Linked DNA regions of Homo sapiens. The protein of the gene in region 4 interacts with the protein of the main gene of each other region in a biochemical or structural test. Each region holds a gene or a part of one and is shown on either strand. Other genes may lie near its edges.

Region 1 (7,024 bases), on a different chromosome or scaffold from region 4:
ATCTAACAATACAAAGTACTTGCTATGATGATTCTTACTGGCAAATCACACCCAATTCCATGAATGTTCATTTTTATGTACAGTAAGTGCATTCACCAATAATCTACCAACATTTAATATTCACTAAAGATCCAACTACCAGATGACACTTGGCAAAACTACAAAACTCCTACTGTGCATGGCATATATAAACTCAAAGTTATTACTAAAATTATTATTTTTATGGCACCAAAGCTGAAGACATTGATACAGTAATAGAATATAAAAATAGTATGAAATGTTATTTGGAGCACCCACCCCTCTCTTTCAACTGTCTACCCCTGCTCTGAGTACCTCTGTTCTCCCAGTGGAGGCTATAAAAAACTTTAAAAAGGGGATCAGATTTTATCCTGCAATATCTGCCAAATAACATTTTTGGTAATTAAACAGTTACCACATGACACCATACTTAAGTAATGTTTCAAAACTCTTATATACCCATTTTATATAAGAGTCAGTGAAGTAGTTCCTTTCACATAATTTCCACGAAATCATGGTTAAAAAGTATTATTAGGGAGCCCTCAGAAATACTACAATAATGACATTGTCTCAATTTGTGTTTAAAAAGACCATTGTTTTAAAAGCAAAACACCTTGGAAAGTAATTCGTTTAGAATTTCATTTTCAAAATGGTAGAATAAAATTGTTTTAAAAACGTAATTGTTTAACTAGGCTAATAATATTTTTCTCAATGCCAAAGACTGTTAATCTTCCAAAGTATTCCATCTCCCTAAAAATCAACAGCATTGATTTTAGAGAATCTTATTTAATTTTTTTAAAGAAAATTAAATAAAAATTACAAGAAATACTTTTAAATTGTGCACATTAAGGTATCAGTATTTCAATTTTTTAAAGAAATAACTTTTAAATAAAAGCAATTTTTTATTTAAATATTTGAGTAAAAGCAGTGCCTAGAAATCAAATCAGTTTTGGTTTACAGCCAATATCTGTTTTTCTAAAAATGATAGTTTTATGACAACTGTGTACTACTTCTGGCCTCCAAGTAAGAGAGATTAAATGTTTTAAAAGAGATCATTTCCTGTAGTATTGATTCCTCGGCATCCCACCCTTTCAGGAACTCCCCCTCCCTTACGTCTTGGGGTTCTGCTACAGTTATTAATCATATTATGCTATTTATACCCAGCTGCAAGGGTAGACATGTCCCCACGCCTGACCAATCATGGCACTTCATTGTCCTCTCCTCTCTCTACAATAATTGGTCCAAGAGATGGGCACAGGGCCAAAGTCCCTGCATGAGATTTGTTATTAGACTCCAAAAAGATGAGAAGCTTTAAGGACCCTGTATGACTTCGGGGTTCAGAGCTACCTTCACCGCTACACTGACAGTCTAGCTGAGAAAAAATCCAACCCAGAAGAAAAGAGAACCAAATAATAATTCTAATGACCAACACTTGAGAACAGAAGTTAGCTGTTACTGATCTATGCCTGGATTTTAATGTATGTAAGTCAATAAATTTCTTCTTAGCCTACATTAATCTCAACAGCGTTTCTGTCACTTGCTACAGAATTCTTACAAATACAGAAACTGATATGTAAATTAAGATTTTTTTCTTTCCTGCTGAGATCTAAGCTATATATCACAAGATACTTGCTGCAAACTAGATAACCATATCCAAAGAGTAATATATCTCTGGAACTACTCCATTAAAGTGAATTTTTAAAAGTTATTTTATTGGAGGAAAAAGCAAAGCCAATTTAGCTTAATTCTATTTAAGTTCAGAAAATGAAGCATTAATAAATACTTGTTTTTTTCCTACCTTGTAGGATATTTTCCTTTCATAAAACTACTTCTGTTAAATGCCATTATGTATAGTAAAATCCCATTTTTCATAGTCATGTGTAATTCCCAATCAGAACAACGAGATACAGGCTTGCCTCTCACAAACTCCCCTGAAGCCAGAAAATAATAATTACGTGTTTCAAATTATGTGCAAAAAAACCAGCAAAAGCAAAGAGGCTAAAATGCCAGAAAGTTTTAATTAAGTAGATCGGTTACCGTTCACATTGTATACCCAAGACAATAAAAAGGGAAGCCTCCAAATAGAAAAGATCTTAATTATTAATAAATTTGAAACAAAATTTTTTCCAATTACCACTGCATGATATTTTTTAAAACCAAACCCTAAACTCCAAACAAATTATGGCAAAAAAGTTTAACCCTTCATAACCCATACAGAGTCTCTAAAACAATATCTCTCAGTATGTGTTAATAAAACAAGTACCTAATCACCTATAAGGACAGCGTGTCCTTTCTCAGGTATTTAGATATGTCATAAGTCAAATTATGGTCCTCAAAATGTAATCTATGTTCCCCTGGCCATGTTGGGATGACTGAAATGGGTGGGGGCTGCAGGTAAGTGGGTTGCTCCTGGAAACCACTGCAATGCAGCTGAGTGGCTGCATCAGGATAAATTGCTAGGGTTCAGGGAAGAATGGAGATATAATGATGCCACCCTTCTCACTGGAAGCCAGTCGGCTGTGGCTGTAACAAAAGGGAAGGCGGGATTAAGATGAAAATATATTTTTCAATTCCCTTTTTCCTAGGCTAGCAAATTGTGTTTTCCCATAAAACTGGCTAGACTTCCAAAACAACAAAAATAGGGCTATTAACCATAAAGAACAGAACTAATGGTACATTAAGGGTTAAATAAAAATATTCATAGTATAACATTATGAGTGGAATGAGGCTGAAGGCAGAAATAGCATTAAGCACCTTAGAGCATTATTTCGAGGAGATAACACATTTAAAAAAAACTTACAGGAGACTATTCATAATGGAACTACCTATACATTTAAACAATTAATATGATCTTCCCTCTATTTTCCAATTATTCTATAATGTGGATTTTGTGCCCTTGTACAAAATAATTTCCAATTATTCTATAATGTGGATTTTGTGCCCTTGTACACAAACACACACAAAATTATTGAGATGGACCACACTGTAAACCTTTCTGTATGGAACGTTTTTGCCCTGTGTTTTTCTCCTCCTCTGCTTCTTACCTACTACTGGAAAGATCCTAATTCCACTCAACCAAAATCTGTCATCTTTCAAAACCCAAACAAGTTCAAAATTATTCACAATTCATTCCTCAACCACTCAAGTCAGAAAACAAGGGCAGATGGCGTGGATCCTACCAAGATATTAAAAAGAAAAAAAGAAAAGAAATCATTCTTTCACTTCATGTACACATTTAATTTCCATAAATTCACTGTACATACCTAGATGAGGATAATTTCTTAGAATTAAAAGTTTTTTTGTAAAACATATCTTTTTAATGCAAGCAAATTACTTCTTCTGGTATTCGACCAAAAAACTGCAATTGGTTCCAACATGGGTGGAAAAGTGGCATTTGGACTCATCCTACAAACAGTACAATATAGTATTTTATGCACAATTTAAGGGCTTTTTGAAAAGACAGTTTTGCTTATATTTGATTTCCCTCTTTTTGTGATGACTTGAGAACCCAAATCCTTTCTAAAATGCAGCTCCACTACTTTTTCGAATAGCACACTATGCAGCCAGTTAGTCTCATTTTCACCAAAATTCATACTAAGACCTACCTAAAGAGTTTTAAACACTGGCAGAAAAGTGAAAAAGGCAAAACCCTTACTACAGGTATTCCTTACCAATGAGTCATTAAGCTCCCACTAAACTGCCAGCTTCTTGAAGACACACAATTTCTGACTCATGTTTATATCGCCAGTGCTAGCTCCATGCTGGCACTTGGTGGGTGCACCACTAAGTATTTGCTGAGGGAATGAATGCGTGCCAGTAATAGGACTTCTTATTTTTTCTGTATTAAATAAAATATGCATCTTTTCTTGGAAAACATTCTGAATAATAGTTGTTCTTCAAAAACAAAATATTAGCAAGATATTTTGTTAGCAAAATTAGCTAGAAGAGCAATGAATGGATTTGCCTCTTTCCCTACAAACATGTCTCATAACACCAGCTTCTAAGTTTCTGAAACTCTTACTTTAGACAATAGTTTTAAATTCAGGGCATTCACTCTATCTACCAAAATGTAGTATTTCAAGAAAATTATTGCTCAAAATTTCAGAAGACAAAAAATAATTTATTAAAGGCGAAACGGTTCTAGTCTTCAATACCAAAACACTTATCTTTTGTCAAATCACACACACACACACACACACACACACACACAACCCTGACATTCACAGATTTTGAAATTGGTAAATAATACTGAAGTAATCCATAAAAACAAGATTCTCTTTCAACATACTCCCAAAACACTAAGTCCCCCCAAAAATTACAAAGCACTTAGGGGTTACATAGTAAAGACTCTGTATGAAACTATCACTTGAGAAGATTAGGCACTGACTTCATAAGTCAGACACTTGAATGAATTTAGAAGATTTGTTTTGTCGCCAGTTTACATAAATTAGCAGAAAAAAAATCACAAAAATTTGTCTCTCAAAACAAAAGGTTTTATAAAGTATGTGCCAGGATCTCAGAGGAAAAATAATGTATACGTCCCAGGAACACAGAGTTATGTTACATGAAAATCAGTTTTAGCAATAAACTGAATAAAATTTAAAATCATCTAAAAATCAAATGGCCAAATGTTAAGTATTTGTTTGTACCAGTAAGATAGCAAGAAATTAAAGAATTATTAAAATGCCTCAACCTAGGAAAATAAAGTTTTACAAACTAAATTATAAAAGTCTGGGGGTGAGGGCAGGATCAATAAAGTACCCAAAATGATATACTAGAAAATGATATACAAGAAAAGTTAACAAAAGTATGTGTGTGTGTATATACATATACATATATGCATATAATATATATATACACACACGTATATACATATATACATACTGAGATATTTGGATATAGTACTCTTAGAGAATGATGGAGAGAAAATATTTTTTAAGTACAAAGATGTTAATGATATAATAAAAGTCATCAAATATCATGCAAGCAAATCAGCTTGCAATTGCTAAGGTGTAAGCCCATTACTCATATGAATTGAAGGTGTCAATGAACAGAATCCAAAACCTGAACCCCTGAGTTATTAAGAGCTTTAGGGAAAAAAGAAAAAAAAACTACCAAAATTTGAAATAGGAAATTTTCAACTTCAAGGTTTATCAAAATGTAATGCTACTTTCCCTAGCAAAGGGGCTTGGCTTGCTTCTTTTTCTATTGTTTCTAAAATAATCTCTAGGTCTCTAGATTTTCTTGTTTTAAAAAAGGTACGAAGAAATGTATTGTAAGCCTGGGAGGCTAACAATTAACTCTAAATTCTCTTACCTTTCCCATCCTCATATAATACAACCACCTAAACAAAACTCATCAAAAATCCTAAATATCCCACTAAAAAAAAAAAAAAAAAAAAAAAAAAAAACTAACAAAAAGATTCAAGAGATAAGAAAGGCACAGCATTATTTTTATTTGAATAACATAAATATTTCCTATTTTAAAGCATCCAGTAGTGTTTCTTCACCAACAGGAAGTGTATTTCTAGGAATTAGCCCATTTTAACAAAACTCCCTTACAAATTGGATGTCCCAAAGAGTCAGCAGTGAAGACTTTTACCTACCTTTAACATTACCCAGGAACTGTTTCAACTTGGTTTTTATTTAAACAAACTATAACATTGTTTCCTATGATTTCCATCCCTGGATACACTACTTGCTTAGGGTAGTTGAATGTAATGTGTGCATATGGCAGTAGACAATGATTTCATGTATTTATTGTACCGATACTTAATCTCTGGAATAAAATACACATAATTTACTGAAACTTACTGAAAGCAAACTGCTGAAATATGAGCTTAAAGGTGTATGAAGAAGCATAAAACTCTGCACAATTAGAGTCTGGGGAATTTCAGAACAAAATTCACTACTTGTATATTAATCAGAATAGAAATGGTTTAAGAATATATACTCTGTAGTAAAATCAAAGAAACTAAACCTAGTCATAGTAGTATATCACAAAACAATTTCACCAGAGGTCCAAAGTTCAACTTTACTACTGGGAAAAGACAAAGTTCAAACTCAAATGACAACTTTTCTCTTTGCAGAAAAATAAACAACAGGGTCATAATTAAGAAACAAGTAACTAATCGAGCCAAGCAATAGGTGAAACCAAAGATTCTTCTATAAGCGGGCAAAGTACTGACTACTAAGTACTACACTAAAACAATAAGAAACTACCTAATTGATTCAGGAAAAGCTTCAGATTAGAAACCATATTTTAAAGAGTAACTTTCAATTCTCTATTAAAGATTATAACAACAAAAAAAGGGAAAAAAAATCAAAGCTAAAGACAGTAGCTGCCAGAAAGATGTTAAGTCACCTGGCTGATAGTACTGGCTTTGGGAGGGCGACCCTTAGCACCTAAGTGAAAAGAAGGCTAGGAAGAATCAGTGCTACAAAAGCCATGTTCTACAACCCAGCTCATCCTTCTGCCATGGACTTTGTCAGAAGACAATATGAGAACATTTCCGATTAGTATTACATCTTACAAAAATGGTTAAATTTTACTCTTTCACTGTGCTAGTCTCTAAATGTCATGTTATGAATATGGTTTAATAAAAAGCAACTAGTCAAGACAAGAGAGTGCTAAGTACACTTTACAATACCTTATTAAATTGAAAAATCAATTTCTGTCACAAAGTTTAGATAAAAGCAAAAAATAAAACAATGTTTATGGCAAGTTTCTTTTTAAATTCCCTTACTCTATTTTCATCCTTTCCAAAATGAATCACAATAAAGAATCTTTGTCTCTTCTGAAAATAATATTTGTTTTTAATCAAACTCAAAAGTTCTACAGATAACCTCTTCAAATTCTTAATTTCTAGTATTTAAAGTCTGTTTAACCTGCAAAAATCTTGCTATTTTATAACAAATGTTGCTTTTAAGCAAAGCCATTTAAGAAAGCCATTTAATATAATACCTAACATGAGGCTATTAAGAAGCTAAGAATACTATTTTTAAAA
Region 2 (7,024 bases), on a different chromosome or scaffold from region 4:
AGGGTCACAATGGCCAGGCCCTCCCCTATGGCCATACCAAGCAACCCAGGGCAGGGGTCACATTTTATATCCAAGTACTAGGGACACACGAACCAAGGCATGGCCTTTTCTTACAATTTAAAAAATTGAGATGCAATTCATATAAAATTCATCATTTTATTATACAATGTAGTGTTTTTTAGTACATTGACCGTGTTGTGCAACCCTTACCCCAAAAAGAAACCCCGTCCCCACCGCAGTCACTCCTCTCCCTCTCTCCAGCCCCCGGCAGCCACGGATCTGCGTTCTGTGTCCGTGGATCTGTTCATATGAGTGGAATCTCACAATATGTGGCAACCCTTTGTGACTGGCTTCGTTCAGCCTCATGTTTTCAAGGCTCATCCACGTTGTGGCCCCTGTTGGTGCCTTGTTCCTTTTTACAGCCGAGCCATGTGCTGCTGCGTGGAGATGCCACATGTGTGTCTTTTCATCCGCTCACAAACCAGGCTTGGCTTTTGTGACTTGGCCAAGTTCCCAAAGCCAGCCGGTGGCATCACTGGGACGAGACCCCACAGGCGGTGGGCCTCTGAGCAGGGGGCCACCTGCCGGCCACCCTGGCCTTTGAGGACACAGCCTGGCGGGGGCGGTGCAGGCAAAGGCTTCCTTGAAGCCTTCTGGTCTGACCTGTGGCTGGGATAAGTGAGTAGGCCTGACGGGCTGGCCTCCTTCCTGGAGGGAGTGGCGACACCACCACAGTGCCCTCAGCTCGCGTTTCTGGGCCTGCAGCCCCCACGGGCTCTGGGGGCTTCTGCTTACTGCGCCCCCCTGACCCACAGCATCCGCAGTGTCATGCAGAAGTACCTGGAGGACCGGGGCGAGGTGACCTTTGAGAAGATCTTTTCCCAGAAGCTGGGTGAGTATGGCAGTGGCTCTGCCAGCCACCGGACTTAACTTCTTGCCCCTACCCCAGCCAGCCCAGCTGTGCTCCCCACTCTCCAGAGATTTGGCCTCCCATCCACTCAGGGTGGAGCAGCCAGCGAGACCCCAGGGCTTGCTCCAAGTCGCTGCGACCCTGCGTGCCTCCTTGCCCCTGGCTGTCGGCCCAGGGAGCCCCGTGGTGGGGGTGGGGGCCCAGAGTCTTCCAGGGCCGCCAGGGAAGTTCCTCCTTTGGGGTTTTTGTTTTTGAGAGTTGCAGCTTCCCCTTGGCGCGGCCGCAGCTGCTCTGGGCCGTTGGTAGAACTGACAGGAAGAGGCGGGGCCCTTCCTGTGGCGCCTGCCGAGCTGTGGTTGGCCCCGCCCCACCCCATGGGCCCTCTTTGTAAGCAACCTGCCTGGTGTTGGCCCTCCATTCCTCCTCCAGCTGGTGTCTGATGCCTGCTGTCAGAAGTTTCATGTGACCCACCCTGCGGACCTGGCCCGGAGGGCAGGCTTGGGGCAGGTCTCGGGAAGCAGGCTCCAGCCCCACATGGCTCTGATTTGGCCTTCCCGAGAACAGGAGCTCAGCTCTGGACAGGGGGTATCCTGGCCTGATGGGATCAGGCATTGGGGGTCAGCCTGGGGGAGTCGGTGTGTCAAGAAGCACAAAGTTTGGGTCCCAGGCCTGTGCCTTTTGTCCTTGGGCAAGTTGCTTCACCTCTCTGAGCCTGATGGTGTCCTCATCTGGGAGATGGGACTCATGAGTCCGACTGTGCAGGCCTGTCAGAGTCAGATGGGAGCACTGTGCCCACTGTGAAGCCTGGCCCCCATTCCTCAAAGGCCCTGCACTAAAGGCCAGGCAGTGAGGACTGAAATGATGGCCGCAGCTCTGACCCAGGTGCCCAGGCAGTGCCCCCGAAGGCATGAGAGGCCACCCAGCTCGAGCCTGGTTACCCGTGTCAGACTGGAGGCCTGAGGAGGGCCTCTGTCCCCTGGTAGTGCTCGGGGGCCGGGGTCCAGGGTCCAGGCCCCTTACTCAGGCATGAGGACACCCTATCTGGGGTCCCCTGAGAGCCCCTCCCACAGCCCACCTTGCCTCTCCAGTTCCCTGTGGCTTACACCCGTTCCATGCCCCCTGCCCTGAGGCCCCAGCCCCAACCTCTTTCCCAGGGACCTGCCATTTGGTGGAGTAGCCCTGAGTTCCACTTGAGCCTCTGCCACAGACAGTGTGTCTGACCAGCTCCCTGAGCCCTAGTTTCCCCAACTGGACCCACCCTCCCTGCCTGTTTCTCAGGCTGCTGTGCAAATCAGCCAGACACTGGAGTGGGGCAGGGTCCAGAGGAGTGGTGTGGCCTCAGAGCCCCCTGCTAACCTTTTCCCCATGCTGCAGCCTGACCTGGCCCCGGTGGCCACAGCATCCCAGGGCCCCCAGACTGAATCGTGTTGCACCTGCACAGCCCGCCCCGGTGGGGGGTATCGGCCTCACAGAGCAGGCGCAGGGCCCTGGGCTGCAGTGAGTGGGGGCCCAGGTGCTAAGCCAGGGCTCCCTGATGCCAGAGCCAACCCCGCTCCTCTGCCTCACCCTGGTGCCCATCGCCGTCCAGCTACCACCTGGGGAAACAGATTTCAGGAAGAGGGTAGAAACACAGGGGCCCCAACCCAGAATCCAGGAATCTTCACGTTGGCAGCAGCCTTAGCAGCTGCCTGGCCCACCCCTTGCCTGGGGCCGAGACCACCTTTGCCACCTCCATAGCCAGTTCTGCCCAGGGAGCCCAACCCACACCATCCACAATGATGGGAAGGCCTCTGAGAGAGGCGTGGCTCTGTGACCTTACACTGTTGCCTTCAGGGTACCTGCTCTTCCGAGACTTCTGCCTGAACCACCTGGAGGAGGCCAGGCCCTTGGTGGAATTCTATGAGGAGGTGAGACCCAGAGGCCCAAGCCCTGCTCTGCCTGGAGAAAGGGGAGGAGGTTGGGGCGGCTTTGTGGAACCCACAAGCTGCCTGGTGTGGGCATCCCCATTCCCTGCTGGGCTCTAGATGACCTGCAGGAATCCTGTCCTCCAGATCAAGAAGTACGAGAAGCTGGAGACGGAGGAGGAGCGTGTGGCCCGCAGCCGGGAGATCTTCGACTCATACATCATGAAGGAGCTGCTGGCCTGCTCGCATGTGAGTGTCCTCAGCTGGCCCTGTGTGCTGGCCCAGAGTCACCTGCAGATTGGGAGGGGAAGAGAGGACCCTGCTGAGAATTCATGGCCACCTCTGTCTTCCCCAGCCCTTCTCGAAGAGTGCCACTGAGCATGTCCAAGGCCACCTGGGGAAGAAGCAGGTGCCTCCGGATCTCTTCCAGGTGTGTGCCTCCCGGTCCCTCCCCAGGCAAGGTCACCTTGGACAGCCCCTGGTCAACAAGCCTGGTCAGCCAGGGGTGGGGCCTGGGCAACCACGGTCTCTCGGGGCTCAGTCACCAACTTCCAGCTTCCTCCCTTAGCCATACATCGAAGAGATTTGTCAAAACCTCCGAGGGGACGTGTTCCAGAAATTCATTGAGAGGTGAGAGCAGGGAAGTGTGGGAGAGGAAGGGGGAGGGAGGGGCCGCTCTCAGAAGGGGTATGGCTGGCGTGGAGGGCAGAAGCCAGCCTTCATTAGGCCCTGAGCAGGCAGGTGGCTGGCCCGTCAGCGGCCCCCTTGCAAGGACTCCTGAGAAGTCAGACAGGCTGCAGGTCATCTCCCACCCTGCCCTCCTCAGCACCAGGCAGCTCAAAGCCCATCCCAGGCAGTCTCCTAGCTCCAGGGAGCTAGGAGAGCTGTGCCACCTGTGCCTCTTTCTCTCCCGTGGGCTGTATAGCACCTTGCTGGCCCACCTGGACTGAGAAGCATCAGAGTCCTGGTAGGGGTAGGCCCAGTAGAGCGCATGGCCCCCGTGACCCTCACAGCCAGAGTTGGCGCGGTGGGTGGGAATTGTAGGTAGATTTCAGCCAGCTTTAGGGAGCAGCTGTTTTAGGGTCACTGCTGCCCAGCCATGGAGTGAGCTCTGTGTCACTGGGGGTATGCAAGCAGGGACAGGAGACGTACTTGTCAAGGATATGGTAGCAGGAAGTCTGGGTTAGACTGGAAGACCTCCTTTCTGTGCGGATCTGATTCCAGCAGGAAGCCACGGCCAGGTGGCCGAGGGCCATGCTGGGCACCCAAGCAGCCCTGACTGGTGCTGTGGGCGGGCAGGCCCTCAACATATCCTTCCTGGAAGAGGACATTAACGCTCGTGATGTTTCCACACCTACCCTCACGGGACCCCAGGGAGTGGCGGCTGGGTGGGGAGGCTCACGACAGCATCATCCTTCCCACATTCTGAGTGGCCCCTGAGCCCTGATTCTTCTTTTCCAGCGATAAGTTCACACGGTTTTGCCAGTGGAAGAATGTGGAGCTCAACATCCACGTGAGTGGGCTTGGGTGGGGCATGGAAAGCCACGCACCCTGCTGCTCCTCTCCCGGGAGCTGGGCCTGTGGCTTGGCTGGGAGGGGGAGGTCAGGGGATGTCTGTCCTTTAGCCCCCAGGGCCGTGGCTATGGGGGTCAGGGCCGGGATCCCAGCATGGGGAGGCCGGAGCAGGTAAATATGTGGCAAGGATGGCCAGGACATGGGTATGGGGACCCTGGCATGGGGCCAGCCCCTGCTGCCCAGGTGCCTCTGCCCCAGGGCTGGGCAGAGGCAGCCTGTGGTGACCGCAGCTGTCGCTGCCCCTCAGCTGACCATGAATGACTTCAGCGTGCATCGCATCATTGGGCGCGGGGGCTTTGGCGAGGTCTATGGGTGCCGGAAGGCTGACACAGGCAAGATGTGAGCACCCTGCTCGGCGCGGTGGGATACCTCGGGGAGCCGGGCTCCTGGGGGACCCTGACAGGCCGGGTTCCACACAGGGCCACCTGCTGCTCCATGCACTCCTGTCTTGCCGTGCTGTTACCCCCGCAGGCTCCTCTGGCCCCAGCCCTCCCTGTCTCTGATTTGTGTCACACGCTGGTCCTGGGTCTAGTCTTTCCCTCAAGCGCCCCCTGAGGCAGCCCTGGGCCCCTGCTCTGAGGGTGGGTGTTGACTGCCGACCTCTGCCCCGTAGGTACGCCATGAAGTGCCTGGACAAAAAGCGCATCAAGATGAAGCAGGGGGAGACCCTGGCCCTGAACGAGCGCATCATGCTCTCGCTCGTCAGCACTGGGGTGAGCTGGGTGGGCCGGGCTGCCGCTGAGGCTCTGGAACCCCGGGCGCCCCTGCTAACTGCCCGCCCCCTCCCCTCCTCTCCCCTCCTAGGACTGCCCATTCATTGTCTGCATGTCATACGCGTTCCACACGCCAGACAAGCTCAGCTTCATCCTGGACCTCATGAACGGTGAGTGCTGGCCGGGCCCTAGGGTGGGCCGGGCCCAGGCACGGGAGGCTGGGGCAAGACACTGAGTGCTGCCTGTGGGACTGCCTCCCTCAGGTGGGGACCTGCACTACCACCTCTCCCAGCACGGGGTCTTCTCAGAGGCTGACATGCGCTTCTATGCGGCCGAGATCATCCTGGGCCTGGAGCACATGCACAACCGCTTCGTGGTCTACCGGGACCTGAAGGTGAGCGCCCCTGCTGTCCCCAGGCTGGACCTCCGTGGCTGTCCTCTCCTTCCTCTCGACATCCCGGCCACCAGGCCCAGAGGAGTGGGGCTCCTGGGACATGGCCGCCCCGTATCTTCCCATCTCCGCCCCTGCCCTTCCCACCGAGCCACTCTCTGGGTCCAGGTTGTAGCTGGGGACAGGAGAGAGGACCCCCACCTTTGCCCTTTCTTTGGGTACCCATCGTCCTCTCCAGTGAAGCAGTGACCCAGCTGGCATCTTGCCTGGCTGGGCCCCATCCTGAGCTGCCCCAGGCAGCTCACTGGGCTTCCTTCACAGCCAGCCAACATCCTTCTGGACGAGCATGGCCACGTGCGGATCTCGGACCTGGGCCTGGCCTGTGACTTCTCCAAGAAGAAGCCCCATGCCAGCGTGTGAGTGCCCCCCACCCTCTCCCTCCCCACCCCTTGCCACTCCCGCTTATGGCCCCCTTGCTCCCACAGGGGCACCCACGGGTACATGGCTCCGGAGGTCCTGCAGAAGGGCGTGGCCTACGACAGCAGTGCCGACTGGTTCTCTCTGGGGTGCATGCTCTTCAAGTTGCTGCGGGGGTGAGTGGCCCATCCCAGGTGGGCAGGTGGGTTGGGGCTAAGAGAAGTTCCTCCCCAATCCAGGTGGGATGCCAAAGGAGGGGAGCCCATAGCTGCCTTGGTGGTAGGGTTGGCACCGTCCCTGACTTTGGCCACAGCTCATCCATGCTGCCTGCCTCCCTTTCCCCATTCCTGTCCTTTGACATTGGTTTTTGGCCTTTCTTGCCCAGGCACAGCCCCTTCCGGCAGCACAAGACCAAAGACAAGCATGAGATCGACCGCATGACGCTGACGATGGTGGGTGCAGGTCTCAGTGCAGGGCCGCAGGGGGCTGGGGGGAGCTCCTGTGGGTGCCAGGCCATGACTCTTGCTTCCCACCAGCCAGCAGAGATCTGGGCCACTGACCCCTACTCTGGCCTCTGAGACAGACCTCCTGCCCCATAGGCTCTCGCCCTCCCCGTGCTGTTGGAGCATGACTGCTGGGCGAGCTAGGATGCTGTGCCCCATCTGTCCCTCTGCGGGGGCCTGGACCCCTCTCTCCCCTGAGCTGGGATGGGGTCAAGGGCTCTTCCTAAGCCCCTGCTAATGTCCCACTCCTCTCTAAAGGCCGTGGAGCTGCCCGACTCCTTCTCCCCTGAACTACGCTCCCTGCTGGAGGGGTTGCTGCAGAGGGATGTCAACCGGAGATTGGGCTGCCTGGGCCGAGGGTGAGTACCCTGGCGCCTTGGGCATGCTGCTGGCTGTGCCCCCATGAGGACAAGGGCTGTGTCCCGTCACCTGGAACCCCCTCCAAGGTCCCAGCCTCCTTGGAGGAGCTCATAAGTTGGGGCATGGCCAGCCCTGTCCAATGTTCTCAGAGTGGAGGGGCTGCCCTGGGAGTTGGAGCTGCTGGAACCAGCTAGTAACTGGCTTCCAGAGGGGCCCTTGTCACAGATGATGATGATAGCAGCTTTTTATGT
Region 3 (7,615 bases), on a different chromosome or scaffold from region 4:
AAAGCAAAGCCGGTGGGCAGAGCTGGAGAGCCACTTCCACCTCCTTAGGCCTAGACTCCCCAGCGGGGATGGCCAGTGTTACAGGCACCCCTCAGCCTCTGCCCTGAGTGGTTCTGGACACAGCTGGTCTTCCCAGCCAGAGGCCACCCAGCCAACCACTCTCTGCGCCACACTTTTCCACTGATATCATCACTTAGTAAGTGGAGGGCTAATGAAGACAAGGGAACAGCCCCACCTTGCACACAAATTCAGACTAAAACGAATTGGCAAACCTCCATTTGATGCTTTATGTAGGAAACGGGTGTGTTTTAGAAAAACGAACTCTTACAATGTCTGTTAACATTTTTTCTAATAACCACATGGGTGTCTGTATGCTCAACACACAGGATTGAGAGGAGAGGATTTTCTGCTAGAAGGACTCAATGGTGTTGACTAGGAGTCAGTTTAGAGGAGCTGGGATTCAAACGCCAGGCATGAAGGAGTGCAGTTCAGCATTTAGTAAGGGGCTCAAGTGCTTCACGTCATTTCTATAATTCTAGAGAAGGCAGGCATCACATCGCCCAATGCCTCCATCTCACAGATGGGAGAACCAGAACTCAGAAGTCCTGGGACTTGGCTGGTGATGGTGTCCCCAGGATTTGCTGGTGGCTCTCCTCTCATCTCCTGGCCTAACAAAGTACACACAAATGTAGGTGTCCCTCCAAAACATGCAGGAATCTGAGTCTGTGCTCACCCAGGAAGCTCAAAGCTGCTGCCTTTGCGCACGTGTGCTATGCCAGGCCTCCACGTTCGCCTCCCAGGCCCTCTGGCACCCAGCAGCATAACCAAAAGGGCAAAGGGAGGAGCTGAACGAGACTGCAACTTGTGGGGGGTGGGGGTGGGTGGGTATTTGTGTGGGTGCCAAAGTCCAAAAAAAAAAAAAAAAAAGAATGTCAAATCGATCGATGGACTCAGCACAAAGTTCACACTGGATTTCTGCCTGGGACTGGAGATCATCGGCCCCAACTCCCTGGCATCAACCTCCTTGCTCCGGGTGCTCAGATCCCTTCCCCCTCCCCTTGCCAATGCCAGCTTGGCAGGGGCAGGAAGTGGGAGCCTGGTGGCCCTGGCATTCCCAGCACCCAGCTCTGGCTGGACAGGGCTTCTGGTGACCTCACTTCCACCAAACCAGTTGATCCTCTAGGGCTTTGCCTTCTACCTTAATGCCGAACTGTGCCCTTTCTCTGTCCAGGAGGCTCCTCGTAGCCCCACGGACACTCCCATCAGACACTGCCACCAGGGAGAGCTGGTGGTGCAAGCTGAAGGGGTCCTGGGAGGCTCACGCCCTGCCCTACACAATGCACCACTCCACTCTCTGGGGACAGGAGGCTCAGCACAACTCCTATTTTGCCAGCTGCCCCTCTTGCAGCTGATCCAAACTGGGATCCCATGGGCAAACACCAAACATGGGCAAAAAGCAACCGGCCTGCTGGCTGTGTGGGCACCAGAGTGACCATGGCAAGGCCAGGGCAAGACCACCGGCTCACCGTGAGCTCCGCTGGCGCACACAGGGCCGTGAGCCCCAGGAGCTCTCTCTCCTCCCCATGGCCATCTTTTTCTTCTTCCAAGGTCTTTCCCCTTCCCTCCCAGATACAGTTCTAGGCGCTTACTCTTCACATTCCTGAGAATCGTAAATCCTCTGAGGTGGCAGAACCACCACTCCGAGATGCCTTGGCTCCTCCTCCCTGCCAGGCAACCCCCACACCGCCCTGAGATGGTGGGGCTTCCTCTCCCTTAGAAGTCACACAGGACTCCGGGAGGATGAAGTCCAGCAGGACTGAAGTTCAGGACACACACCGGCGGGCTGCGGAGAGGGCCTCCTCGCGCCGGGGCTCCACACAGGAGGAGTAATGCTATTCCTCTAGCTTTTGAAGTAGGAGTGGCGGGCGAAGCTGGCACCTCTGGGGCGGAGAGCCCTTTCTCCCCGGCCCATCTGCGGACTGGGGTGAACGAGGAGAGGGCACCAGGGAAGGAGCAGGATTGGGGGATTCCGAGGAACGGGAGCAGACACCCACAGACCCGAGGGAAGGGGGCTGGGTTCCCCTGCGCCGCCCTCCCAAAGGCCAGGGAACAAGAGGTGCAGGCGGCAAAGGCGCTCAAGCTCCCAGCACAGCCTGGGAAGGAGAGGAGGTCGCGGGACGCAGCCCCAGGCCTGCCTAGGATGTGTCAGGGCGCCTGGTCGGCGGGCGGAAGCGGTCTCCCCCTCGCAGCTCGAGTTTCAGAAAAACGACGGCGGGCGCGGGGCTGGACGGCCGGGGCACCTGGGTCTCTCCGGATCCTCCTCCCACTCCATGCCAGCCTGCGCGGCTTGGGCCCCGCTTACCTGCTCCGGGTGGCTCTTGTCGGCCTCGCGAGGCTCATTTTCGTTGCCAGCCCCCTGCACCTCGGCGGCGGCCGGCGGCTCGGCCTGCCCCGGCGCTTCCTGGGCGCGCAGCAGCTCCTCTCGGACCTGGACGCCGAGCTTCTGCAGCTGCTCGTCCGTCTCGGGGTCGACCACCAGCAGGCGCACGGCGTTGAGTGCGGCGCGGATGCGGCTCACCACCTGCTGGTGGGTCTCCTTCTCCACGTTTTCGCCGTTCACCTCCACCAGCCGGTCCCCCGCCAGCAGCCCCGCCTTCTCGGCCGGCGAGCCGGGCTCCACCAGCCGGATGTACTGGCCCAACTTGCCCTTCTCCCCGTGCAGGTGGAAGCCGTAGCCGTTCGGACCCTTCTCCAGGCAGCAGAGCCGGGGCAGGGGCGCCCCGGCCGCTGCGTCCGCGCTCATCTCGCCCTGCGACGGGTCAGCGGCGCGACTTGGGGTTCCGATGGGGACGGGACGGGACGGCCCAGCCCTTCTTCCCGTCCAGCGAACCGGGAGCGCAGCAGAGAAGCCCTGAGCCGCCGGACGGGCCAAGCAAGCAGGTGTCCCAGGAACCGTCGGCCGCCGCGAGCCGCGAGGAGCCGAGAGAGGACCACAGACCAATCCCCGCCCCGCGCGGCGTCTGAGCGTCCCAGAGTCCGCCCCGGCTCCTTACCCCGGGGGCGGGGCCGCGCTGAGGGTGGGGACCTCCGCGGGCCAATAGGGGGCTGCAGGCCTGGGCGCTCCGGCCGGGTGAACGGCGCCGGCCATTGGGAACGCGCGGGGCGGGGCCTGCGCTCGGCGCGGCGCCCCGCGGCGGGCGAAGACTAGCGCTCAGGAAGTGGAAGTGTTTGTTACCGAGCGGCCGGCGCTGGGGTGGCAGGGGCGGGGCTCGCCGAATTCCCGGTTCTGGGCGGGTGGGCCCGCCGGCTCCGGCCTGGTTTCCCCTACCTGTGGCGGGGAGTGAGGAAAGCCGGCCCTCGGGTAAAGGACCCTAACTTTTTTTTTTTTTTTTGAGACGGAGTCTCGCTCTGTCGCCCAGGCTGGACTGCCGTGGCGCGATCTCGGATCACTGCAACCTCCGCCTCCCGGGTTCAAGCGATTCCCCTGCCTCAGCCTCCCGAGCAGCTGGGGTTACAGGCGCGCACCACCACGCCCCGCTAATTTTTGTATTTTTAGTAGAGACGAAATTTCGCCATGTTGGCCAGGATGGTTTCAAACTCCTGACCTCAGGTGATCCGCCCTGGGATTACAGACGTGAGCCACCGCACCTGGCCAACGTTTTAACAGCCTTTAGCCAAAGCCTGGGTGCAGCTCCAGTTGAGAGGGAGCGGCTGTTGCCGGGGCAACTGCTCCCGCTCGGGGCAGCGAGGGCCGGTCAGTCTCGAGAATTAAGACGGAGGGCCTCCTCGGACCCTACAGAGTTGTTTGAATAACATTTTTCCGTTTGTGGGAACCCTAACCCTAATCCACTTTGTGCTGTCCCAGGACTCGCATAGAGGAGTGCAGGTTCTGATCCCTGCTGGGAAGGTGAGGGCTCCGCGGAGAGCCTGGGACCTCGAGGGGCAGCCCGCTGAAGACAGGCCATCTAGGGCAATAGCGTGGGCTTTGGCAGCAGCGTTTGGCTAGGGAGGTGGGGTGGGGAGAGGCAGGACAGACTCAGGTAATCAACCTCTGGGTACACGCCACAGGGAAAGGAGCCTTGGTTTTTTTTTTTTTTTTCCAACAGAAAAATGATTAGGACTGTAAAGCCTTCTAGCTCCCTCTTGCCAAAGAGAGGCTGGTCACAGAGGCGGGAGACAGTCTGTTGAGCGGGGAGCTGACCATCTGAGGACAGACACTGAGGAAGGAGGATGGAATGATTTTGGCAGTGAATGACAATTCCTTCAACAAGACCCCCCCCCCCCACTCACTTCAAAGAAACAGTGGACAGGATGTGCTTTCCAAAATACTGCAGTTTAATTCTGAAAAACTCAAATGCAAGAGGCCCAGAGCTGTCTATGGGATTGGATCTCCTGCAACCTGCCTTGGGCCCCAGAAGAGACTGGCAATGTCAGCCTCCTCCCTGCTCTGCCTGAGGGAGGCCACGGAGAACTTCCTTATCGGGCCCAAACTGGAGCCGCTGACTGCTCAGAGCAAGATTTCTGCCTTGAAAGCAAATGCAGTAGCCTCAGAAATGTGCAGCGCATACTTCTTCCTCCCCCTCTCCCCCTCCAGGCCGGCAGAGCTGCAGTAAAGATGCCTGCAGGTCATGACCTCATGTTTCCTGTCCACTTCCCATGGCAGGGATCGGAGCTTTGGGAGATATGTGACCAAGGAGGACACATGAACTTGCTACCCCTCTCTCTACCCCAGACATACCCACATGACTTTGTTTTACTCATATTGCATTGGTTTAACTCGGAAATGGGTGACCTCCCACCACCTAACCTGACTCAGTAGGAGGGGAGGTAAAGCAGTTTAGGCCCTGGTATCTGTTTGAGAAGTTAAAGGAAAGGGCATGGGTGGTCAGGGAGGAGGCAGAGCTTGGGGTCAAAGGGATACATGTCAGGGGAGGTTTGCTTAATCTTGTCTCCCACCAGCTCCAGGAGCCAGGGATTTCTCTTTTTTTTCACAACACATTCCAAACCTAGGAAAGGGATTTCTCCTTATCTGGCTCTTAACCCAGGAGGGCTAAACACTTCAGCTGCTTGAAGAAATCGCCTGTGGAGCTGCATGCCTGCCAAAGGATTGGGATAAGACACATCTAGCCTGGGCATGGTGCCTTCTGCGTGTAATCCCAGTACTTTGGGAGGCCGAGGCCGGCAGGTTGCTTGAGCTCAGGAATTCAAGACCAGCCTGGGCAACATGGCGAAACCCTGTGTCTACAAAAAATACAAAAATTAGCCAGGTGTGATGGTACACACCTATAGTCCCAGCTACTTCGGCGGCTGAGGTGGGAGGATCGCTTGAGCCCCAGGGAGTGGAGGTTGTAGTGAGCGGAGATTGCACTACTGCACCTCAGCCTGGGCGACAGAACGAGACTCCATTTCAAAAAAATAAAAACAAAACTCTTTTCCTAGTTCTGACCTGAGGTTTTTAGGTGCACAGGCAGGAAGGTAGCTAAGCCAGGGATTCAGGGGGGGGAGGGGCTCCCCCAGGATCTGAAGTCCAGAGAACAGGAGCCTGGAACCAATATTTCCAGGTGCCCCAATGTGCTTGTGTGCTGGAGAAAAGGGGCATGCCTCCAGGGGGGTGTTAGTAAGGCCAGAGATAGCCAGCTAGACCCTACTCTCTGCCCCTTGTCCTCCCCCTCCCATCTCCATATCTCTTATCTTCCCTGAGGCTTTGGTCTTCCTCACAGCACAAGGGCCCACTTATTTGGGAGATGGGGCGAAGATAAGCTCCTGGAGAGCGGGAGACAGTGAAGGCTGGGGTCACCTGAGCCTCTGTCCAGCTGAACTGAGGGTGCGATGGAGTCATTACCTGCCCTCACCCCCAAAGTGCATCTGTGTCCCCTGGGGCTGAGCTGGAGCAACACCACCTTTGTTATGCTTAGGAGGGAGGGCCGGCCCCCCAAGTCCTAGAAAGCAAAAGGGCCACTAGCTCCCAGCCTCGGTTTTTTGGGGATCCAGGCGCCTTTTTTGGTATTAAATTATGTACTATTAAAATAAAAGCTAAGTGTTTTACCCTCCCTGTGGATGCGGGGAGACCGCAGGAACTCAAGTAGGAGTTGGAGTATAGCTCCCTGCTAGGAAGCGGCTGTGCAGTGAGTCCTCCATCTTTCTCCCCATTGGCTCAGCCTCTTGGAATAAGCCAGGCCTGGGAGGGGGAAGGCTGCATCCTGTGTGCCTCCAGAGCCTCCTCTCTGCCCCCTGGGATTCACATGAAGGAGCAGCAGCTGGAGCGCTTCTTCTGGGACTCTACATAGTCTCGGATCTGGAAGCTGGGCTCATCCGCCTGATGCCCGGCCCGGTATTTCAGTTCCCTTGAAGAAGAGACAATGGGCTGGGCTGGGCTGGGCTGGGCTGGGGTGAGGAGCTGAGCCGCCCCCTCCCCTCTCCCAGTGGCCCAGTGCTCCCAGAGCAAATGGACCTCAGCCTGCAGAATGCAGGTGTGTCCAGGGGCTGGGCCAGGGGCCGGGCCCTACTGGATTCCTGGAGTGTGCCGCCCTGCCCCGCACACTTCCCTTCCCTGCCCAGCTCTCACTTGGCGATGGCCAGAAAGGCTAACTCCACATTCATGCCAGTCTTGGCGCTGGTCTCCAGGAAGGGAACACCGTACTCCTGCCCGGGAGAGAGTGTCCTCAGGGCCAGCGTCGGGTTGCCCCCACCCTTCACCCTGTCCCACAGACAATCACTTACCCTGGCCAAGGTCTCTCCGTCTTCGGAACGGATCACTCTTTCGCTGCTCATATCCGCCTGTCAAGCCCAAATGGGTCACTCTGGGGAAGGAGGCCTCCGCCCCAGCGGGCCCATATTTTGCCCCAGAAGCAGGCGTTGCCTGCCCTCTGCTGGTGGCCCAAGGGACTGCAGGCAGGTGTGATTGGCCTGGGGCCAGGGTTTCTGCCCAGTGTAGCTCCCAGCTCTGGGATCTCACCTTTGGTAAAGGGTCTTGGAATAGGACAGCAGTTGGGGCTAACCCTTTGCACTCTTAGCCCCTGACCTGGGACCCTGTTCACTCTGCTCTAATGGGGGCTGAGAACTGGGCACCCCTTGATTTCTCAGGCAACAACTTGGACTTTCCCTGGAAGGGGCAGATGGGATGGGCAGAAGCCTCCAGATATGTCTGACCCCTGAGCTGGAGGCTGCAGAGTCCTTTTCAGGAAGGATGCCTAGATAACTGTTCTTGGGTGGTTATGGGGCCGGCTAGGGCTGAGGAAGTGCAGGGCTGGGCTGACCCTGCCCCGGAGCCACTCACCTTGTTGCCTAGCAGCATGATCACCACGTCCCTCTGGGCATACTCATGAATCTCAGTGAGCCAGGCCTGTGGGAGAGGGCGTGCGAGACTGGCATTCTCTTCCTCCTGCTGCCCCTTTCTTCTTCTGCTCCGTTTGACTATCCTCAGTTACTCACTACCTTGAACACGATACCCTGTGCGTTCTCTCATCTGTACCTTTGTTCTGGCCCATCCAGGCCTGGATGGCCTTCCTTGGTGGCTCAACCCACAATGGCCCCACCCTCACCATTTTATGCTGTGCAACTATCAGTTCTATGGAAGATCCAGATGCATGGAGACCTTATCTCACAAATCAGTTGG
Region 4 (6,488 bases):
ATTCCATGGTGTATATGTGCCACATTTTCTTTATCAAGTCTATTCTTGATGGGCATTTGGGTTGGTTCCAAGTCTTTGCTATTGTGAACAGTGCTGCAATAAACATACATGTCCATGTGTCTTTATAGTAGAATGATTTATAATCCTTAGGGTATATACCAGGTAATGGGATTGCTGGGTCAAATGGTATTTCTTGTTCTAGATCCTTGAGGGATTGCCACACTGTCTTCCACAATGTTTGAACTAATTTACATTCCTACCAACAGTGTAAAAGTGTTCCTATTTCTCCACATCCTTTCCAGCATCTGTTGTTTCCTGACTTCCTGTTTTTTTTTTGAGACGGAGTCTCACTGTGTCACCCCGGATGGAGTGCAGTGGCACAATCTCGGCTCACTGCAACCTCCACCTCCCAGGTTCAAGCGATTCTCCTGTTTCAGCCCCCAGAGTAGGTCAGACTACAGGCATGCCACAACTTCTGGCTAATTTTTGTATTTTTATTAGAGACGAAGTTTCACCATGTTGGTCAGGCTGCTCTCGAAGTCCTGACCTCAGGTGATCCACCCACCTCAGCCTCCCAAAGTGCTAGGATTACAGGCATGAGCCACTGCGCCCGGTCTGTTTCCTGATGTGTTAATGATCGCCATTGTATCTGGTGTGAGATGGTATTTCATTGTGGTTTTGATTTGCATTTCACTAATAACCAGTGCTGATGATCTTTTCTTCATATGTTTGTTGGCTGCATTAATGTCTTCTTTTGAGAAGTGTCTGTTCATATCCTTTGCCCACTTTTTCATGGGGCTGTTTGTTTTTTCTTGTAAATTTGTTTAAGTTCTTTGTAGATTCTGGATATTAGCCCTTTGTCAGATGGATAGATTGCAAAATTTTTCCCCCTTTCTGTAGGTTGCCTGTTCACCCTGATGATAGTTTATTTTGCTGTGCAGAAACTCTTTAGTTTAATTAGATCCCATTTGTCAATTTTGGCTTTTGTTGCCATTGCTTTTGATGTTTTAGTCATGAAGTCTTTGCCCATGCCTATGTCCTGGATGTTATTGCCTAGATTTTCTTCTAGGGTTTTTATGGTTTTAGGTCTTACGTTTAAGTCTTTAATTCATCTTGAGTTAATTCTTGTATAAGGTGTAAGGAAGGGGTCCAGTTTCAGTTTTCTGCATATGGCTAGCCAGTCCTTCTTGATTTAGTATTTGTGGGTTTTAAAAAAGGAGTTTCCCAAAATATTCAGTTAAACTTTTAAGTGACTTACGTGTATATCTAAATACATGATCAGTTAATATTTGTCTTAAAGGGGTTTTCTTTGTTCTTTTCTTATTATAGGAAGGTTAAACAATATGCTTATTTATGCCATAGCTTCACAAACAGGAAGGAGGTTTTAAATGGTTTAGTTCCACAATTTGAGTAGATGCATATTTAAAGAAACGTTGTTGCATAATAAATACTGCCTCTTCCTAAAATGCATCATGCCACAGCCAATTTTGGAAAACACAAATATGAGGTGAGTGTATTTTGAAAACTATGTGAATATAATAGATCTTTAATTCATATTTGTGGATTTTATGGGAAATACTTGTTTTCTAAGGCATCTGTCTTGCAAAAAGTCAGTTTCTGCTATGAAGGATGTTAAAGGGGATATGTAGGTTAAATTCTGTTTCTGAGCTTTGCTTCCAGAGTAAACACCCAACTTACTTTTGCCCTAAAGTATTTTATTGTTCTAGTAGAGAAGACTAACAACATATTCTAAACCACTAAGTAATTTATGTAAACTTCGCTTACAAACTACACTTGTGTGACACTTATATGAGCAAAAGCATTTTCATATTTCTTACTATATCATTCAATTCTTGCTTACCCCAATGGAAGTGACTTTATGCCCCTTTAGAGACAATGGAAATCAGGTACTTCGTGATTTCTCTTAAAAAAAAAAAAAATGAACTAGAAAGCTCCAAGTTTGGTGAATCTGGAACCTGGGTATTCCAGTTCCAGTTGTAGCCCTTCCTCCCTATCCATCACTCCTGTCTGCATGTAATTATGCAATACATTGAAAAGATTAAAAGATGGGTCTTGGACTCAGGCAGACCTGGGTCAAATCCAGATTCTGGCACTGCCCAGCCATTGCCCCTGGGCAAGCCATTTTCCTCTTTGAACCTCATTTGTGAATTAAGCTAAAAATAGTCCCCACCCCCATGGGACTGTGGGAAGGATTAAATAGAATAATGCATGAAAAGCAAATAGCAGAATGGTCCATAAATGTTAACCATTGTTATGTTATTATGTAATCTACAAAGTACGTTTAGTTACACTTCATGAAATACTTTCAGTTTTTCAAAGACACCACTAATACATGGGAAATCAAACCCTGAAAATTAATTTCACTTTAGCAGTAAAGTCACATGCCAGATGGAAAGGATAGTATTTCATGAACAAAGATCTTACTTTTGAGATTTGGTCTTACTTTTTTCTTTTTCTTAAGGGAGAATTATCTTGTGTTTTTTGTTTTGTTTTGTTTTGAGATGGAGTCTTGTTCTGTCACCCAGGCTGGAGCGCAGTGACGTGATCTCGGCTCACTGCAACCTTCACCTCCCGGGTTCAAGAGATTCTCCTGTCTCAGCCTCCCGAGTAGCTGGGACTACAGGTACGTGCCACCACACCTGGCTAATTTTTGTATTTTTAGTAGAGACAAGAGTTACACCATATTGGCCAGGATCTTTTGCTTTCTATAGCTTCAAAATGTTCTTAATGTTAAGACATTCTTAATACTCTGAACCATATGAATTTGCCATTTTGGTAAGTCACAGACGCCAGATGGTGGCAATTTCACATGGCACAACCCGAAAGATTAACAAACTATCCAGCAGATGAAAGGATTTTTTTTAGTTTCATTGGGTTTACTGAAGAAATTGTTTGAATTCTCATTGCATCTCCAGTTCAACAGATAATGAGTGAGTGATGCCACACTCTCAAGAGTTAAAAACAAAACAACAAAAAAATTAAAACAAAAGCACACAACTTTCTCTCTCTGTCCCAAAATACATACTTGCATACCCCCGCTCCAGATAAAATCCAAAGGGTAAAACTGTCTTCATGCCTGCAAATTCCTAAGGAGGGCACCTAAAGTACTTGACAGCGAGTGTGCTGAGGAAATCAGCAGCTGTTGAAGTCACCTCCTGTGCTCTTGCCAAATGTTTGAAAGGGAATACACTGGGTTACCGGGTGTATGTTGGGAGGGGAGCATTATCAGTGCTCGGGTGAGGCAAGTTCGGAGTACCCAGATGGAGACATCCGTGTCTGTGTCGCTCTGGATGCCTCCAAGCCAGCGTGTGTTTACTTTCTGTGTGTGTCACCATGTCTTTGTGCTTCTGGGTGCTTCTGTGTTTGTTTCTGGCCGCGTTTCTGTGTTGGACAGGGGTGACTTTGTGCCGGATGGCTTCTGTGTGAGAGCGCGCGCGAGTGTGCATGTCGGTGAGCTGGGAGGGTGTGTCTCAGTGTCTATGGCTGTGGTTCGGTATAAGTCTGAGCATGTCTGCCAGGGTGTATTTGTGCCTGTATGTGCGTGCCTCGGTGGGCACTCTCGTTTCCTTCCGAATGTGGGGCAGTGCCGGTGTGCTGCCCTCTGCCTTGAGACCTCAAGCCGCGCAGGCGCCCAGGGCAGGCAGGTAGCGGCCACAGAAGAGCCAAAAGCTCCCGGGTTGGCTGGTAAGGACACCACCTCCAGCTTTAGCCCTCTGGGGCCAGCCAGGGTAGCCGGGAAGCAGTGGTGGCCCGCCCTCCAGGGAGCAGTTGGGCCCCGCCCGGGCCAGCCCCAGGAGAAGGAGGGCGAGGGGAGGGGAGGGAAAGGGGAGGAGTGCCTCGCCCCTTCGCGGCTGCCGGCGTGCCATTGGCCGAAAGTTCCCGTACGTCACGGCGAGGGCAGTTCCCCTAAAGTCCTGTGCACATAACGGGCAGAACGCACTGCGAAGCGGCTTCTTCAGAGCACGGGCTGGAACTGGCAGGCACCGCGAGCCCCTAGCACCCGACAAGCTGAGTGTGCAGGACGAGTCCCCACCACACCCACACCACAGCCGCTGAATGAGGCTTCCAGGCGTCCGCTCGCGGCCCGCAGAGCCCCGCCGTGGGTCCGCCCGCTGAGGCGCCCCCAGCCAGTGCGCTCACCTGCCAGACTGCGCGCCATGGGGCAACCCGGGAACGGCAGCGCCTTCTTGCTGGCACCCAATGGAAGCCATGCGCCGGACCACGACGTCACGCAGGAAAGGGACGAGGTGTGGGTGGTGGGCATGGGCATCGTCATGTCTCTCATCGTCCTGGCCATCGTGTTTGGCAATGTGCTGGTCATCACAGCCATTGCCAAGTTCGAGCGTCTGCAGACGGTCACCAACTACTTCATCACTTCACTGGCCTGTGCTGATCTGGTCATGGGCCTGGCAGTGGTGCCCTTTGGGGCCGCCCATATTCTTATGAAAATGTGGACTTTTGGCAACTTCTGGTGCGAGTTTTGGACTTCCATTGATGTGCTGTGCGTCACGGCCAGCATTGAGACCCTGTGCGTGATCGCAGTGGATCGCTACTTTGCCATTACTTCACCTTTCAAGTACCAGAGCCTGCTGACCAAGAATAAGGCCCGGGTGATCATTCTGATGGTGTGGATTGTGTCAGGCCTTACCTCCTTCTTGCCCATTCAGATGCACTGGTACCGGGCCACCCACCAGGAAGCCATCAACTGCTATGCCAATGAGACCTGCTGTGACTTCTTCACGAACCAAGCCTATGCCATTGCCTCTTCCATCGTGTCCTTCTACGTTCCCCTGGTGATCATGGTCTTCGTCTACTCCAGGGTCTTTCAGGAGGCCAAAAGGCAGCTCCAGAAGATTGACAAATCTGAGGGCCGCTTCCATGTCCAGAACCTTAGCCAGGTGGAGCAGGATGGGCGGACGGGGCATGGACTCCGCAGATCTTCCAAGTTCTGCTTGAAGGAGCACAAAGCCCTCAAGACGTTAGGCATCATCATGGGCACTTTCACCCTCTGCTGGCTGCCCTTCTTCATCGTTAACATTGTGCATGTGATCCAGGATAACCTCATCCGTAAGGAAGTTTACATCCTCCTAAATTGGATAGGCTATGTCAATTCTGGTTTCAATCCCCTTATCTACTGCCGGAGCCCAGATTTCAGGATTGCCTTCCAGGAGCTTCTGTGCCTGCGCAGGTCTTCTTTGAAGGCCTATGGGAATGGCTACTCCAGCAACGGCAACACAGGGGAGCAGAGTGGATATCACGTGGAACAGGAGAAAGAAAATAAACTGCTGTGTGAAGACCTCCCAGGCACGGAAGACTTTGTGGGCCATCAAGGTACTGTGCCTAGCGATAACATTGATTCACAAGGGAGGAATTGTAGTACAAATGACTCACTGCTGTAAAGCAGTTTTTCTACTTTTAAAGACCCCCCCCCCCAACAGAACACTAAACAGACTATTTAACTTGAGGGTAATAAACTTAGAATAAAATTGTAAAATTGTATAGAGATATGCAGAAGGAAGGGCATCCTTCTGCCTTTTTTATTTTTTTAAGCTGTAAAAAGAGAGAAAACTTATTTGAGTGATTATTTGTTATTTGTACAGTTCAGTTCCTCTTTGCATGGAATTTGTAAGTTTATGTCTAAAGAGCTTTAGTCCTAGAGGACCTGAGTCTGCTATATTTTCATGACTTTTCCATGTATCTACCTCACTATTCAAGTATTAGGGGTAATATATTGCTGCTGGTAATTTGTATCTGAAGGAGATTTTCCTTCCTACACCCTTGGACTTGAGGATTTTGAGTATCTCGGACCTTTCAGCTGTGAACATGGACTCTTCCCCCACTCCTCTTATTTGCTCACACGGGGTATTTTAGGCAGGGATTTGAGGAGCAGCTTCAGTTGTTTTCCCGAGCAAAGTCTAAAGTTTACAGTAAATAAATTGTTTGACCATGCCTTCATTGCACCTGTTTCTCCAAAACCCCTTGACTGGAGTGCTGTTGCCTCCCCCACTGGAAACCGCAGGTAACTACTTGTAATTACTGCCCATGACTTAATGTAGAATGATACAAGAATGACATGCACAGATTGCTTAACCCTTTCATTTGCCTTTGAGTCTGCTGCTGCAAAGCTGCATCTCTCCTGACACTTGTGCCCCAAATCAGTTCTGCCTGCTCTTAGTATAGCTCAACTCTCCCTATGGTTATTGTTCTGTGTTGTTACCTCAGAAACACTGACTCACAGAAGCGGAGTTAAGGGGATATGTTTTTTTCTCTCCACGTGCACCCACCACCCACCTTCCAGTTCTACTTGTTTCAAAACTGTTTATATTTCTGTCTTGGCCATGTGTTACAGTGGAGCTCTTTGTACTGCATCAGGGCTTGGCATTTTAGGGATAAGGAAGATGTTCTTATGAGGAAGCTACTCAGACATGGCCCCGTAATTCTGAGGGAAAATTCAAAAGGCATTGGTC

What was found.
Region 1: the proteins of ADRB2 (region 4) and MAGI3 form a complex in vitro, tested with the Homo sapiens proteins (2 studies listed by IntAct, with this or other methods).
Region 2: the proteins of ADRB2 (region 4) and GRK2 form a complex in vitro, tested with the Homo sapiens proteins (2 studies listed by BioGRID, with this or other methods).
Region 3: the proteins of ADRB2 (region 4) and NHERF1 form a complex in vitro, tested with the Homo sapiens proteins (3 studies listed by BioGRID and IntAct, with this or other methods).

Annotation. Positions count from the first base shown.
Region 1 is NC_000001.11:113,393,492-113,400,515, reverse strand, and holds part of MAGI3 (membrane-associated guanylate kinase, WW and PDZ domain-containing protein 3), read right to left. Parts: intron 1-7,024.
Region 2 is NC_000011.10:67,276,457-67,283,480, forward strand, and holds part of GRK2 (beta-adrenergic receptor kinase 1), read left to right. Parts: intron 1-815; coding exon 816-892; intron 893-2,743; coding exon 2,744-2,817; intron 2,818-2,961; coding exon 2,962-3,063; intron 3,064-3,169; coding exon 3,170-3,244; intron 3,245-3,382; coding exon 3,383-3,444; intron 3,445-4,275; coding exon 4,276-4,327; intron 4,328-4,636; coding exon 4,637-4,728; intron 4,729-5,002; coding exon 5,003-5,102; intron 5,103-5,193; coding exon 5,194-5,272; intron 5,273-5,365; coding exon 5,366-5,496; intron 5,497-5,814; coding exon 5,815-5,909; intron 5,910-5,978; coding exon 5,979-6,086; intron 6,087-6,295; coding exon 6,296-6,362; intron 6,363-6,671; coding exon 6,672-6,772; intron 6,773-7,024. UniProt on the Homo sapiens protein: Specifically phosphorylates the agonist-occupied form of the beta-adrenergic and closely related receptors, probably inducing a desensitization of them. Key regulator of LPAR1 signaling.
Region 3 is NC_000017.11:74,744,035-74,751,649, reverse strand, and holds the start of NHERF1 (Na(+)/H(+) exchange regulatory cofactor NHE-RF1), read right to left. Parts: upstream 3,023-7,615; 5' UTR 2,804-3,022; coding exon 2,363-2,803; exon of another isoform or gene 1,783-2,362; intron 1-1,782. Other genes in the region: RAB37 (ras-related protein Rab-37), read right to left, coding at 6,239-6,344, 6,566-6,642, 6,721-6,777, 7,277-7,342. UniProt on the Homo sapiens protein: Scaffold protein that connects plasma membrane proteins with members of the ezrin/moesin/radixin family and thereby helps to link them to the actin cytoskeleton and to regulate their surface expression. Necessary for recycling of internalized ADRB2.
Region 4 is NC_000005.10:148,822,654-148,829,141, forward strand, and holds ADRB2 (beta-2 adrenergic receptor), read left to right. Parts: upstream 1-3,957; 5' UTR 3,958-4,178; coding exon 4,179-5,420; 3' UTR 5,421-5,970; downstream 5,971-6,488. UniProt on the Homo sapiens protein: Beta-adrenergic receptors mediate the catecholamine-induced activation of adenylate cyclase through the action of G proteins. The beta-2-adrenergic receptor binds epinephrine with an approximately 30-fold greater affinity than it does norepinephrine.